Linked DNA regions of Homo sapiens. The gene in region 1 interacts genetically with each later gene. Each region holds a gene or a part of one and is shown in the gene's direction. Other genes may lie near its edges.

What was found.
Region 2: changes in CHEK1 (region 1) and SMARCC1 are lethal when combined (synthetic lethality), as found in Homo sapiens cells (one large-scale study listed by BioGRID).
Region 3: changes in CHEK1 (region 1) and TCEA1 are lethal when combined (synthetic lethality), as found in Homo sapiens cells (one large-scale study listed by BioGRID).
Region 4: changes in CHEK1 (region 1) and IGF1R together harm fitness more than expected from each alone (negative genetic interaction), as found in Homo sapiens cells (one large-scale study listed by BioGRID).

What each region holds. Positions count from the first base shown.
Region 1 is NC_000011.10:125,634,961-125,638,707, forward strand, and holds part of CHEK1 (serine/threonine-protein kinase Chk1), read left to right. Parts: intron 1-468; coding exon 469-573; intron 574-2,488; coding exon 2,489-2,584; intron 2,585-3,747. UniProt on the Homo sapiens protein: Serine/threonine-protein kinase which is required for checkpoint-mediated cell cycle arrest and activation of DNA repair in response to the presence of DNA damage or unreplicated DNA.
Region 2 is NC_000003.12:47,673,853-47,677,599, reverse strand, and holds part of SMARCC1 (SWI/SNF complex subunit SMARCC1), read left to right. Parts: intron 1-817; coding exon 818-971; intron 972-2,011; coding exon 2,012-2,125; intron 2,126-3,747. UniProt on the Homo sapiens protein: Involved in transcriptional activation and repression of select genes by chromatin remodeling (alteration of DNA-nucleosome topology).
Region 3 is NC_000008.11:53,980,908-53,984,654, reverse strand, and holds part of TCEA1 (transcription elongation factor A protein 1), read left to right. Parts: intron 1-137; coding exon 138-292; intron 293-3,747. Other genes in the region: LYPLA1-TCEA1 readthrough, read left to right, coding at 138-292.
Region 4 is NC_000015.10:98,707,333-98,711,079, forward strand, and holds part of IGF1R (insulin-like growth factor 1 receptor isoform 1 precursor), read left to right. Parts: intron 1-229; coding exon 230-775; intron 776-3,747. UniProt on the Homo sapiens protein: Receptor tyrosine kinase which mediates actions of insulin-like growth factor 1 (IGF1). Binds IGF1 with high affinity and IGF2 and insulin (INS) with a lower affinity. The activated IGF1R is involved in cell growth and survival control.

The sequences.
Region 1 (3,747 bases):
GGTTTTTTTTTTTTTGAGACAAAGTCTTGCTCTGTCGCCCAGGCTGCAGTGCAGCAGTGTGATCTTGGCTCACTGCAGTCTTGACCTCTTGGGTTCAAGTGATCCTCTCACTTTAGCCTCCTGAGGAGCCAGGACTACAGATGCACACCATCACGCCCAGCTAATTTTATTTATTTTTTGTAGAGATGGGGTCTCACTATGTTGCCCAGGCTGGTCTTGAACTCCTGGGCTCAAGCAGTCCTTCTGCCTCAGCCTCCCAAAGTGCTGTGATTACAGGCCTGAGCTGCCATGCCTATCCTGATTCATCTATCTTTGAAGTGCCTCTAAAGTTTCCAAGTTGGGATTCTTAGTGTGAAAACCATATTGAATTAATTCAAAGGAAACTTTTCATGGATTTATATTATTATTTTTCCTTGAAATCTTTATAATAAGAACATTTAAAAAAACTGGGACTTGCTTTGTTTTTAGAATTGCCATGGGACCAACCCAGTGACAGCTGTCAGGAGTATTCTGACTGGAAAGAAAAAAAAACATACCTCAACCCTTGGAAAAAAATCGATTCTGCTCCTCTAGGTAACTGAATTATCTTGAGTGAAAGAGTACCGATTTCTTGGATATGAAGTCTTGTGCTATTTGAATTTTTTCTTACTTTTTTTTTTGTTTTAAACTTACAAATAATTCATGTTCGTTGTAGATAAAATAGTAACTATAAGTAAAAAATTAAGGAAAAAATAACTCTTTAGTCCCAGAACTCTGCAATAGATTTTTAAAAATATTTTGGGGAGTGTATATTCAGAGCAACTTGAATCTGCTCTTAGATGGCTTTTTACTTAAAGTTTTCATATGTGCTATACTTTGTTGCAAATACACTCGTTTGTTGCTTAATTATAGGGATGCACTCTAACAAATGTTTCATTAGGTGGTTTCATCATTGTGTGAACATCATAGAGTATATTTACATAAATCTAGATAGTATAGCTTACTATAAATCTAGGCTATTTGGTATACCCTATTGATCTCAGGCTGCAAACCTGTACAGCATGTTACTATACTGAGCACTGTAAGGAATTGTAACATAATGGTATTTGTGTATCTAAGTATAGAAAAAGTATAGTAAAAATACAGTATTATAATCTAATGGGACTGTCTGTTATACGTGTGGTCCATTCCTGACTGAAACATCATTAATGTGGCCCATAAGTATGTAAAATGAATATATGTATATTATTTATATGTGTTTTTATACAAAATGAGATCACACTAATAATATTTTGTAACTGTTTTTGGTTTTAGTGCGCAGCGAACATTCTTCCATGACTATAATTGTAGGTCTACATCGTTGGTTTAAAGGCTGTGATAATATTCTGCCATGTGGATATGCCTTACTTTACTCTTTTAATCACTTTGTTGGAGATTTTTCTAAATTTTCACAGATACAAAAGAGATATAAGTATCTGTGTAACTTAATCATGACACATACCCTTAAATTGTTCATTGAAATCCCCAGAAGCAAAATTGCAGGATCAAGGATGTAGTTTTTATTATTATGGCTTATTTTGTCAAATTGCTTCCCGAAAGTTCGAACCATTTCATCACAGTCTCATCAATTTACATTAAGGAAAAAAACTTTAAATAATAGTTTTTCATTTTTATTTTAAATTTAATACTAATGAAGTTGTATACCCTTTATGTATGTATTAGTTTTTTGTCTATTTTGCTCATTTTTGTCAAGGATATTGTTTTTCTTACCACTTTGAAGCTTTTTTTTTTCCTTGATAACACATTGACCTTTGCACTTGTTACAAATACTTTTCACAATTTATCATTTATTTTCATTTTGTTTTGCTATATTGACATTCAAATCTATTATCTTGTCCTTTGTGGTCCCTGACTATAATTTCTTTGGAAAGGTCTTCTACCTCTACTATTTAAAAGTTCCCTATGTTTTCATTTAGTGTTTTTATGGCTTCATTTTTCCATTTAAATCTTTGGTCCATTAGGAAATAATCTTCACATAGGAAGATACGTGAATTTTTTCTCAAGAAAATTAAGATACCTTAGGATGGTTAGTTAGATTACTGTCTCTTAAAAAGTTATTGGTAAGTAAATGTTCATTATAAAACTGTGTGAATAAGGAGGTCACGTGAGAACATGACATTGAAGTAATGAAATTCGGTATTGAAAATGGATAAGAGGGGTTTCTGTATCTTTTTGTTAATCTCGTCACATGAGGAGAAACATTTCCATCTGGCTCTTGTTCTCAGTTGCAAACAATTGAGAATCAGATCAGGGAAGACTACTCCAAGATACAGCAGCAGAGAAAAACTGCATGAAATTAAAGCAGTAATTTAGTAGCTTTAATTCTTTCTCTTCCCCAGGAATAATATTTAGACATAAGTAGGCTAACAGAAAATGTGTTTCTTACCTCAAGCCATAGGCTTCTCTAACATGATTCTTTCGTGAATGTTGTCGTAATGTTTGTTTTTAGCTCTGCTGCATAAAATCTTAGTTGAGAATCCATCAGCAAGAATTACCATTCCAGACATCAAAAAAGATAGATGGTACAACAAACCCCTCAAGAAAGGTAATATCCTTAAACTACAAGTTTGTTTGTTTTTCTGTGGAAGAAAAGGTAATTGCAAAGTTATTATCACAAGTCAACAACACATGATAGCTATGATCTCTGTCCTCATGGAGATTATAATGTCCAGTAGAAAAAAATACAGAAATAATTTTGTTTATTAATAATTATAAAGGGGAAAGTCAGGGTACTATAGCTAAGTGTTTGACCAAGTCTAAGGGACAGGGAAGACTTTTCTTCCTGAAGAAATTACATTAAATCTAAGATTTGAAGATTAAAGGGAAGCTAGGCAGGCAAAGTAAGTGGCAGATTTGATTCTGAACAGGGGAAGCAGTATTTGAAAAATCTTAGATTTTAGAAAGTCTGATGCTTTTGAGAAACTTGAAAGATCAGTATGGCACAAGCCGTGTCTGTTGTGTTCATCATTGTATCATCAGTGCTTTAGCACAGTATATGGTGCACCATAGGCACTCATTAAATATTTGTTGAGTGAGTGAACAGGGAAGTGGGAGAGGAAGACAGGTTTGAGATGAGGCCAGAGAGGTCGCTAGTGGCCAATTTGTGGAAGAAGACCTTGTAAGCCATGTTAAGGATTTTGGGCTTTAACTTAAGACCACTGGGGAGACCTCTGAGAGATTTTAAGCAAGACTATGACATAGTCATATCTTCGGTTTAAAAATATTTCTCTGACTTCCTTATTTTTTTTCCATTGTTTTTTATGAATAGGGAAAGATTCAGGGTGCTGTAGGTTTTTCTGCTAGTTGTCTAGAAGTGGGAGGCTGGTGGCTTGGAATAGGTTAGGGCAATGGTATTGGAGAAATGAGATGATTCCAAAGAAATTTAAGAACTAGTATTGATAGGACTGTTAGGCTGTGAATGGAAGGAGAGAGGACAATGACTAGAGATGATGAATGAAAAACATTCAGAGAGTTATTAATGTTTAACTCTGTCCTCATGGATAGAAAAGAGTTAATGTTTAAACATTCACTCTTCTTTAATACCTCTCTGCATGTTTCTTCCTCCTTGTCCTAACTTAAAGTCCAATTCTCCCCTGAGGACACTGCTTCCTCTGAAGCGGTAGGTGTTTTCTTTCCCATACCCTCATGTCCTTTGATCTGGACATGGTACAGGTGTCCTCCTTATTCTTCATTGTCACTTTCTCCCAT
Region 2 (3,747 bases), on another chromosome or scaffold:
AGCCTGCGCAACAGAGCAAGATTGTGTCTCAAAAAAAAAAACACAAAATAAAATATTTAATTTAGCCTTCTAGATTTTACAGTTCACATTTTAAATTTTTTAGTCAAATCATAAAATAACCAGGGATGGAGTGGATTCAGGTTGGGAGTGGATAAGCTCTGCGCCCTAGCTCTGCCGAAATTAAAAAAAAAAAAAAAACGGCCAGGCATGGTGGCTCACACCTGTAATCCCAGCACTTTGGGAGGCCGAGGTGGGTAGATCACCTGAGGTCAGGAGTTCGAGACCAGTCTGGCCAACATGGCGAAAACCCATTTCTACTAAAAATACAAAAAATTAGCTGCGCATGGTGATGGTCACCTGTAATCCCAGCTACTTGGGAGGCTGAGGCAGGAGAATCTCTTGAACCAAGGATGCGGAGGAGGTTGCAGTGAGCTGAGATCGCACCATTGCACTCCAGCCTTAGAGACAGAGCGAGACTCTGTCACGAAAAATGCGGATTTTTTTAATGTGTGTATTTGGTCTATGTGTGAGTTCTTTTATTACCATGGACCTAAATGCGTATTCGTGCTCTCATTTCTGTGATTGAAATGATTAGGCTTTGTAATAGGTTTGGGGGTGCTGTGTTATCAACATTACTTGTGGCTTGTAGAAATTGTTCGTCACATAACAAAATCTGTCAAGTAGTTTGTGATGTTTGACAGCCTGCTGAGCACATTTACTGGTTTTATTGTTTCTGTTTTTTAATGGCATGATGATGATAGTAAAAGCACATGAAGTTGATTCTTTAGATTTTAACTTTCCGAGCTTTATTCTTTAGGGTCCATGCCTTTTTAGAGCAGTGGGGACTCGTTAATTACCAAGTTGACCCGGAAAGTAGACCCATGGCAATGGGACCTCCTCCTACTCCTCATTTTAATGTATTAGCTGATACCCCCTCTGGGCTTGTGCCTCTGCATCTTCGATCACCTCAGGTAAATTAATGTTGACTTTTCATCAGACCTGGATAGTAACAAATGGCCATTTATAGCATATCTATTTAGAAACAATTATTATTATACTATAATGCTATTATTAGTGCTATTTCTTTGATCCTTGCTTGTGTGTGTATTTTGGTGTACTGTAAATATTACAGTCCAAAAGAATATATAGTGTTTAAGTTAATGCTGTCCCACCAATCCCAAGACCGAATGCCTTACTCTGTCAAATTATTAATTTACTTTTATATGCATAAAAGTAAATTATCCTTCTGTCATCAAAAAGACACTCATAAGTAAGCAGATGATGCAAAATCTTCTTTCCCTTCCTTCAATCTGTGTTCTAGAAATGTGAAGCAAAGAAATCTTTATAACTTGTCCTAAGATTTGTAAAGTGTATATCCATATATACATTATCAAAACAGATTATGTCAAACAAATTATATATAGCATTAAGTTGGATTCACAGGAACCTAAGGTATAAATTTTGTCCCATTGTGAAATAGAAGATAGTAATGAAAATTTGTTATCCTTTCTGGGATTTAAAGGGACACCAAAATGTGACTTATATGTTGAATTTTTGTTAGAAGTATAGTGTAGAAGTGTGGGTATTTATTGTTTTTTGTAGGAAATCCACCAAGAGTGGTTTAAGTGCCAATATTAAACTTTTTTTTTTTTTTTGAGACGGAATCTTGCACTGTTCCCCCGGCTGGAGTGCAGTGGCATGATCTTGGTTCGCTGCAACTTCCACCTCTGGGTTATAAGCAATTCTACTGCCTCAGCCTCCTGAGTAGCTGAGATTATAGGCACGTGCCACCACGCCCGGCTAATTTTTGTATTTTTAGTAGAGACGGGTTTCACCACGTTGGTCAGGCTGGTCTTGAACTCCTGACCTTGTGATCCGCCTGCCTCGGCCTCCCAAAGTGCTGGGATTATAGGTGTGAGCCACGGCGCCTGGCCCAAACAAATTTTTAAAAACATTTACCCTCTTGACTTTAAAGAGGCTAACTCAGCCATTTATCATTTATTTGACTCAGGTTCCTGCTGCTCAACAGATGCTAAATTTTCCTGAGAAAAACAAGGAAAAACCAGTTGATTTGCAGAACTTTGGTCTCCGTACTGACATTTACTCCAAGAAAACATTAGCAAAGGTAATTTTTCTAATCACACATGGGCTGCAATCCAGCACATCTTAGTCCTTCTAAGATACATCTAATGAGCTTTCTACTCAAATCTGATGGTATTTTTAAAAACAATTATGATTTATCTTACCTTTTATATTCCTATATGACTTAGTAGATAGGTATTTTAAAAATAACACTATTAGAGAAATTCGAGGGGAAAATGGAGAATTTGAAGAGAGAATTAGAATCTGTAAAAAGAATCATGAATATTTTAGAACTGAAAAGTATACTTGAAATTATTTGATAGGTTTAATAACGACTGCATACAGCAGAAGACAGGTTAGTGAACTCAGAGACAAATTAGTAGATATATTGAAACTAAAGTACCAAGAGAAAAAATTGGATTGAGGTAGGGAGGGGCCAGGACAAAGAGAGGAGAGTGGAACAGATATGTGAGATAGAGTTCAGGCTGGACACGGTGGCTCACACCTGTAATTTCAGCACTTTGGGAGGCCAAGGCAGGAGGATCACTGGAGCCCCAGAGTTTGAGACCAGCCTGGACAACATAGCAAGACTGTGTCTCTATTATTAAAAGAAGAAAAAGAAAAATGAATGATACAGTCCAAAGAATTAATGTTTATCATTAGAAACCCATAAGAGAATGAATGGAGGAGGAGTGATACTTGAATATATAATGGCTAAAAAGACTTCAGAACAAATAAAAAGATACCAACTCACAAAACAAGAAAGACAGAGCCAGGCCAAGCTCAACACTTTGGGAGGCCAGGGCAGTAGGGTTGTCTGAGGCCAGGAGTTCAAGAGCAGCCTTGCCTCTACTGAAAAACACACACATAAAAAGAACAGATCCAAATTTATATAGAGAGAAGACCACACTCGGGTACATTATGCTTAATTTCTTAAAAACTAACATCTTAAAAGCAGACATGGAGGGTGGGGGCGAGGGTAGAGAAGAACATATTACATTCAAAAGAACAATAATAAAACTGATAGCTGACTTTTCAACAAAAATGATCAAAGCCAAAGGACATTTTTAAATTGGAAAAGAAAAACTATCTATCTGGAATTCTCTATCCAGTAGACATTACTTTCAAAATTGAAGGTGAAATAAAGACGTTTGTAGGCATTCACAATGTACAGAAGTTATCGCTAGCACACAGTATAAGAAAAGTAAAGGAATGTCTTCAGCATGAAGGATAATGATCCCAGATGAAAGCACATGACTCCATGAAGGAATAAGGAGCAGAGAAAAGGGTAATCTGTGTGGTTAAATATAAAGTAATACAGGTTGTTTAAACAATAATATTTGGGATTTATAACGTGTAGAAATTACAAGAATGGCAGAAAGGCAGAAGGAGATTAAATTGAATAAACTGTTACAAAGTTTACATTATTTAGAAACATGACAAAAGTCCTGATTCAGGGTAAACTATAATTTGACACAACAGTTTGGGACCTGACTGGATCTAATGGAAGAATAAAGAGTGATAGAAAAAAGGTCAACATGTGAGTCAGTATAAAAGACATCTTCTGGCCAGGCACAGTGGCTCACACCTGTTTTTGTTAATACAAAATTCAGATCCAAGAAAAACTAACCTATGGTTACAGAAGTCAGACTAGTATATACTTTT
Region 3 (3,747 bases), on another chromosome or scaffold:
GCCTCAGCCTCCCAAAGTGCTGGGATTACAGGCATGAGCCACCGTGCCTGGCCTCAGGAATTCTTATTTTGGCAGAACAGGAAAAAAAAGTGATCTTACTTTTGTAATTTTGCCTTTTTTCCTTAACGGCCTGGTACCTATATATCAAGAAATAAGGAATACAGACATGAAATACAAAAATAGAGTACGAAGTAGGATATCAAATCTTAAAGATGCAAAAAATCCAAATTTAAGGAAAAATGTCCTCTGTGGGAATATTCCTCCTGACTTATTTGCTAGAATGACAGCAGAGGTGAGTATGTGTGAATCTGAGGTTTCTATAATGTGATTCTGTGTTGTGAAGTGTAAAGCCTATTATCATCATAGACTACTATATAAATATTGCATATGTAATAAATTTCCGTTATTCTGATATATTTATATACTAGACAAATACTTAAGGTGATTGTGTCTTTTGTCAGTACTTTGCTCCCCCTCCAACTGTTTCCATGCTTTTAATGTGATTACACTAAATTATTTTCTAAAAACAAACGTGTTTTACTTTTTTTTCTTTCGAGACAGAGTTTTGCTTTTGTTGACCAGGCTGGAGTGCAATGGCACGATCTTGGCCCACCGCAACCTCCCCCTCCTGGGTTCAAGCGATTCTCCTGCCTCAGCCTCCCAAGTAGATGGGATTACAGGCGTGCACCACCACACCCAGCTAATTTTTGTATTTTTAGTAGAGACAGGGTTTCTTCATGTTGGTCAGGCTGGTCTCGAACTCCCAACCTCCAGATGATCTGTCCGCCTTGGCCTCCCAAAGTGTTGGAATTACAGGTGTGAGCCACCACGGCTGGCCACCAAGTGTTTTTTACTTTTTATGAATTAGTGTAGAACCAGAGAGTTGAATCTCTTAATTGCAAGTACACTTTGTAAGTGCTAACCTTTTTTGTGGTTAAACACTATAAAATTGGTCACATCATATTGATTATTTCTTTTTTTTTTTTGATACGAAATTTTGCCCTTGTTGCCTGGGCTGGGATGCAATGGCATAGTCTTGGCTCACTGCAACCTCTGCCTCCCGGGTTCAAGCGATTCTCCTGCTTCAGATTCTCCTGCTCCTGTAATCTCCTGCTGGGATCACAGGCGTGAGCCACTGTGCCCATCCTATTGATTATTTCTTAAATTTTTACAGGGAATTATGGAAAAAATGAAATTTATAGCTTGCTATTTATAGACATGGTTGTTCATAGATATTAGCTATATTGTATCTACAATTTCAACGTTTTAGTGAACATTGAAGAGAGTGAATTTTTCTTCTGTACACAAACATACCTCAGATACATTGCAAGTTTGGATTGGACTACTGCAATAAAGTGACACACGAGTCACACAAATTTTTTGACTTTCCAGTACATATAAAAGTTATGCTTATACTATAATCTACTAAATGTACAATAGCATTACATCTAAGAAAACAGTGTACACCTTATACCTTGCTAAACAATGTACACCTTGCTAAAAATTGCTCATGATCATCTGAGTCTTCAGCAAGTCATACTATTTTTCTGGAAAAGGGAATTGCCTGGATGTTGACGGCTGCTGACTGATTAGGGTAGTGGTTATTGAAGGTTGAGGTGGCTGTGGTAATTTTGTAAAATAAGACAACAGTGAGATTTGATGCATTGATGGAGCAAATATTCATGAAATATTTCTTGGTAGCCTGTGATGCTGTTTAATAGCATTTATCCATAGTAGATGTTCTTTCAGAATTGGAGTCAGTGCTGTCAAATGCTGCTGCTGCCTTATCAACTAAGTTGACATATTATTCTAAATCCTTTGCTGTCATTTCAACAATGTTCACAGCATCTTCACCAGGAATAGGTTCCATCTCAGGAAATTACTTTTTGCTCCTCCACAAGAAGCATCTCATCTATTCAGCTTTTATTATGAGATTGAAGCAACTCAGTCACATCTTGAAGCTCTACTTCTAATCTTCCTTCTCATGCTTTTTCCATTACATCTGTGGTTACTTTCATTTTTTTTTTTTTTTTTTTTTTTTGGTGGGGAATGGAGTTTCACTGTTGTCGCCCAGGCTGGAGTGCAGTGGTGTGATCTCTGCTCACTGCAACCTCTGCCTCCTGGGTTCAAGCGATTCTCCTGCCTTAGTCTCCTGAGTAGCTGGGATTACAGGCGCCCGCCACCAAGCCCAGCTAATTTTTGTACTTTTAGTAGAGACAGGGTTTCACCATGTTGGGCAGGCTGGTCTCAAACTCCTGACCTCAGGTGATCCACCCGCCTCGGCCTTCCAAAGTTCTGGGATTACAGGCGTGAGCCACCGTGCCTGGCCCCTCTGTGGTTACTTTCTCTGGTGAAGTCAAACCCCTCAAAGTCATCCATGATGATTGGAGTCAACTTTTTTCAAACTCCTCTAAATGTTGACATATTGACCTCTTCTCAATGAATCACTAATGTTCCTAATGGCATCTAGGATGGTTAATCCTTTCCAAAAGGTTTTCAGTTTACTTTATTCAGATCTATCTGAAGAATTACTTTTTGTAGAAGCTACAGCCTTGCAAAAAGTATTTCTGAAATAATAAAACTTGAAAGTCAGTTGGGCATGGTGGCCACACCTGTAATCAAAGCAGTTTGGGAAGCCGAGATGAGCAGATCACTTGAGTCCAGGAGGTGGAGACTAGCCCGGGCAACATAGCAAGTTCCCATCTCTACAAAAAAAAAAAAAAAAAAGAAAACTTAGCTGGGCATGGTGTGGTGCGTTCCTGTAATCCCAGCTACTCAGGAGGCTGAGGTGGGAGGATCACTTTAGGCCAAGAGGTGGAGGTTTCAGTAAGCTGAGATTGCACCACTGCGCTCCAGCGTGGGTGACAGAGTGAAATCCTGTCTCAAAAAAAAAAAAAAAAGTCAGAATTACTCCTTGATTCATGAACTGCAGAATCAATGTTGTTGTTAGCAGGCATGAAAATAACATTAATCTCCTTGTATGTCTCCATCAGAGCTATTGGATGACTAGGCATATTGATGACTAAGTGCATTGTCAATGAGTAGGAATATTTTGAAAGAAATCTTTTTTCTGAGCAGTAGGTCTCAATAGTGGGGTTAAAATATTCAGTAAATCATGCTGTAAATAGATGTGCTGTCATCCAGGCTTTGTTGTTTCATTTATAGAACACAGACAGAGTAGAGGTAGCATAATTCTTAAGGGCTGTAAGATTTTCCAAATGGTAAATGAGCATTGGCTTCAACTTGAAGTCACCAGATGCTTTAGCCCCTAACAAGAGAGTCCTTCAAAGTCCTTTGAGGCTTTGAAGGCAGGCGTTGACTTCTTCTCTTTAGCTGTGAAAGTCCTAGATGTCACCCTCTTCCAATATTCATCAACATTGAAAATCTTTGTTTAGAATAGCTACCTTCATCAATGATCTTAGCTAGATCTTTTGGATAACTTGCCGTAGCTTCTCCATCAGCACTTGCTGCTTCACCTTGCATTTTGTACTATGTTATGGAGACAGCTTCTTTCCTTAAACCTCATGAACCAGCTTCTGGTAGCCTCTTGACTTTTCTTCGGCAGCTTCCTCATCTCTCTCAGCATTAAAGAGTTAAGGCCTTTTTCTGGATTAGGCTTTGGCTTAAGGGAATGTTGTGGTTGGTTTGATCTTCTGTCTAGGCCACTAAAACGTTTTCATATCGGCAATAAGGCTATTTTGATCATTATTCATGTGTTCACTGGAGTAGCACTTTTAATTTCCATCA
Region 4 (3,747 bases), on another chromosome or scaffold:
GAGTGTGTTGCACAGCGTCTGGTCCAGTGTTGGCACTGTATAAATGCCAGCTAACTGGTTAGCCACCTAAACTGTCAGTCTGCAACCCACAGCTCTGCAGTGAACAATTGAACCTCATTTCTTTAATAATAATACAGGATTCCTGAAAACCAACTGTATTATTGTTTGGAAAATAGTTTAAAAATTATTTCCTTCTAACTGAGACGTTTACCCTCTTGTCTCCCTTCAGTCTGCGGGCCAGGCATCGACATCCGCAACGACTATCAGCAGCTGAAGCGCCTGGAGAACTGCACGGTGATCGAGGGCTACCTCCACATCCTGCTCATCTCCAAGGCCGAGGACTACCGCAGCTACCGCTTCCCCAAGCTCACGGTCATTACCGAGTACTTGCTGCTGTTCCGAGTGGCTGGCCTCGAGAGCCTCGGAGACCTCTTCCCCAACCTCACGGTCATCCGCGGCTGGAAACTCTTCTACAACTACGCCCTGGTCATCTTCGAGATGACCAATCTCAAGGATATTGGGCTTTACAACCTGAGGAACATTACTCGGGGGGCCATCAGGATTGAGAAAAATGCTGACCTCTGTTACCTCTCCACTGTGGACTGGTCCCTGATCCTGGATGCGGTGTCCAATAACTACATTGTGGGGAATAAGCCCCCAAAGGAATGTGGGGACCTGTGTCCAGGGACCATGGAGGAGAAGCCGATGTGTGAGAAGACCACCATCAACAATGAGTACAACTACCGCTGCTGGACCACAAACCGCTGCCAGAAAAGTAAGAATGATGCTGACTGCTGCTTTCTCTCTGCCTCTCTCTCTCCTCTCCTCCTCCTTGACCTCCCTTCTCTTCTGAGTGCACGAGTTCCGCTGGGCAGGGTGCAGTCGTGTTGCATTTAGGACGTGGCATGCCTGCTGTGCGGAAGTGGTTCCCAGTGGGGGTCTTGGTTGGCTTTCCTTTGCATCTGGGACTCTTGGATTGCGGGACTGTGGCGTGGCTGGAGGCCATCATGGCTGCTGTCAAGACTGTTCAAATCACATGTTAGAAATAATCCAGCACACTCCTGGGCTAGACACTTGCTGACCTTCAGCTTTGAATTCCTGATGAGAAAGGTGACCTGGTGTGCTTGGAAGTCCCTGAGCCTTGGCAGCTGGGGGCTGCTTATGTGTCAGCTCTTTCATCCTTTGTGCGAAGTGATATTTTTTGTTCTGCAGGACTTCCTTAGTTTGAATGGACTTGGAATATGGTTAAATAAAGGGAAGGTAAAGCACTAACTCATATCCTGTGAAAGTGGTCCTTAGGTCCTAGTGATGATGTTATGATACTCAGGTGTCCTGGTTATGACAGAGCACCTGGCCCAGGTGGGAGACCTCTGGACCCATTTCTGCAAGTCCCAGGTTCAGGCTGTACTTGCAGGTAGCTGTGTAGCAGGGTGCATTTTTAAACCTCTGGGATTCTGTTTTCGTTCTTTTATACCTGTTTACTGAACAGTTGTGAAAATCTTAAGATTTCACGAGTGAAGGAACTTTGGAAAGTATTTACTGTTCTGGGGGTCAGATGGTGGTATTTTGAAGCTTCTTGTATATTTATCTGCAATATGCTTATTTTCCCTTGAGAATAACTGAGCTCTTGCCTTCATGTGATCAGTTCCTTAAGAACCAGGCTGTTTGGTATTAAAATGTGACTCTGAGCCTTCACCTTATTGCATTCAGCAATAGTTATGTATATTGGCTAGGAAGCTTTTCCTCACTGGTTTGAAGTCAGTGTGTTAGCTATAAATAGCTATTATTTAAGTGTTGGCCCAGTTAAAGATGTAAGGAACCCATGTTCTCTAGTTATGAAGAACCAAGAAACCCCAAATTGTTAGACTTGCCTAAAATAAATAAAAGGCGAGACCCCACAGGGGTGAAGTGTGTAAAGTAAATAAAGGACAGACCTCCCAGGTAGCCCTTCAGTTCCCGTTCAACCAGTCCTGAGGCAGGAAAAGGATCTGTGTACCCTGATCTGCCACGCACTTTTCTATTCTGCAGAATTGGATCAGTGCGTATGTGAACATTGATTAGTGAGGGCAGGGGTCCCACTGGCTGCAGCCAGTACCTTGTAGAGCTCTGAGAATGCAGTCAGGCCACTTTAAGGTTGGCTGGAGTTGGAGGGAGATCTTATGCTAAAGTCACTTGTGTGGTTGATTAAAACTGCCCTATCATTAAGTTACCCACTGGTTTGAGAAAACAACAAAATATATTTTTTAAATAACCTTGACATTTAAAAATTTTATCTGAAAAGTAAAAGGTGTTATCAAGGGAGGCAGCATGGAGTAGAAAAGAGATGTTGAATGTGGTGATGAGGGCCAGGAATGACCTTGGATGGGCCAGCCCTTCTGGGCTGTAGTTGGGCTTTTTTAGGATATTTCTAGGGCAGTCCAGTACATCCCTTAGTGGTGATCATATATGGGCATGAGGATGTTTTGAAAACTCATAAGCTCTTTAGAGAAGGGAGGTGCCATATGAAACGTCATTAAGTGGAGAGTTGTTCACGAACTAGGTAGGTAGTTACTTTGGTCTTGCCATAGGTTTTTGGCTGTTTCTGATGAGCTACTGATTGAAGACCCCTGGGGTAGGGGTGAGGCCTGCATTCTGGGTCCAAGTCTAAGAGTGGCGACTAGAAATGAGCAAGTTATTTAAATTGCCTGGGCCTTGGTTTCTTCATATGTGGAATGGGGTAAAGCCTGCCTTCCTCATAGGGCTGTTGGAAGATGAAAAGGAGGAAGGAAAAGCACCGTGAAAATGTTAACGATGGTTAGAAGGTGGGCTCTGCTGGTGACAGACAGAGCCTTGATATCACCTGTTGGTTGGTCACCTGCTTCCCCAAGGCCACGCCCTGCAGCCTTCTCCTTGACCATCCCAGCCCTGCTGATGTTCCTTGTGATTTCACAATGGAGTACTTATATAAAATTGGTAACTGCTTTCCGGGAAATTGACTTCCCTTCCCCTTGTCCTGAAAACTCAGGCATGGGCATATTTCTTGGAGATTTTCTAGTTGAATCAGAACTTCCTCTTGGTTTGCGTAGATTCCATTTAGACCTGCATTGTCCAGTGTGGTAGCCGCTTATTGAGTAAGCCACGTGGCTTATTGAGTACTTGAACTGTGGCTTGTCCGAATTGGGACTGCTTTAGGTGTAAAATATACACTAGATTTCCAAGACATAGTATAGCAAAAACTCTGTACACCATTTCATTAATAATTACTATGTTGATAACATGTTGAAATATAACATTTTGGATATATTAGATTAAGTAAAATGTGTTCTTAAATTTCACCTGCCTGTTTCCTTTTTATTCTTTTTTTTTTTTTTTGAGGCGGAGTTTCGCTCTCATCACCCAGGCTGGAGTGCAGCGGCGCGATCTCGGCTCACTGCAACCTCCGTCTCCTGGGTTCAAGCGATTCTCTTGCCTCAGCCTCCCAAGTAGCTGGAATTACAAGCATGTGCCACCATGCCCGTCTAATTTTTGTATTTTAACTGGAGACGGGGTTTCACCACCATGTTGGCCAGGCTGGTCTCAAACTCCTGACCTCAGATGATCCGCCCGCCTCAGCCTCCCAAAGTGTTAGGATTACAGGTGTGAGCCACCATGCCCGACTCTTTTTAATTCTTAATGTGGCTACTTGAAAATTTAAAATTACAGATGTGGCTTGCATTCTGTGTTGGTAAGCTGCTTTAGAGCATTTCTTTTAACACCAGGAGTTCTTCC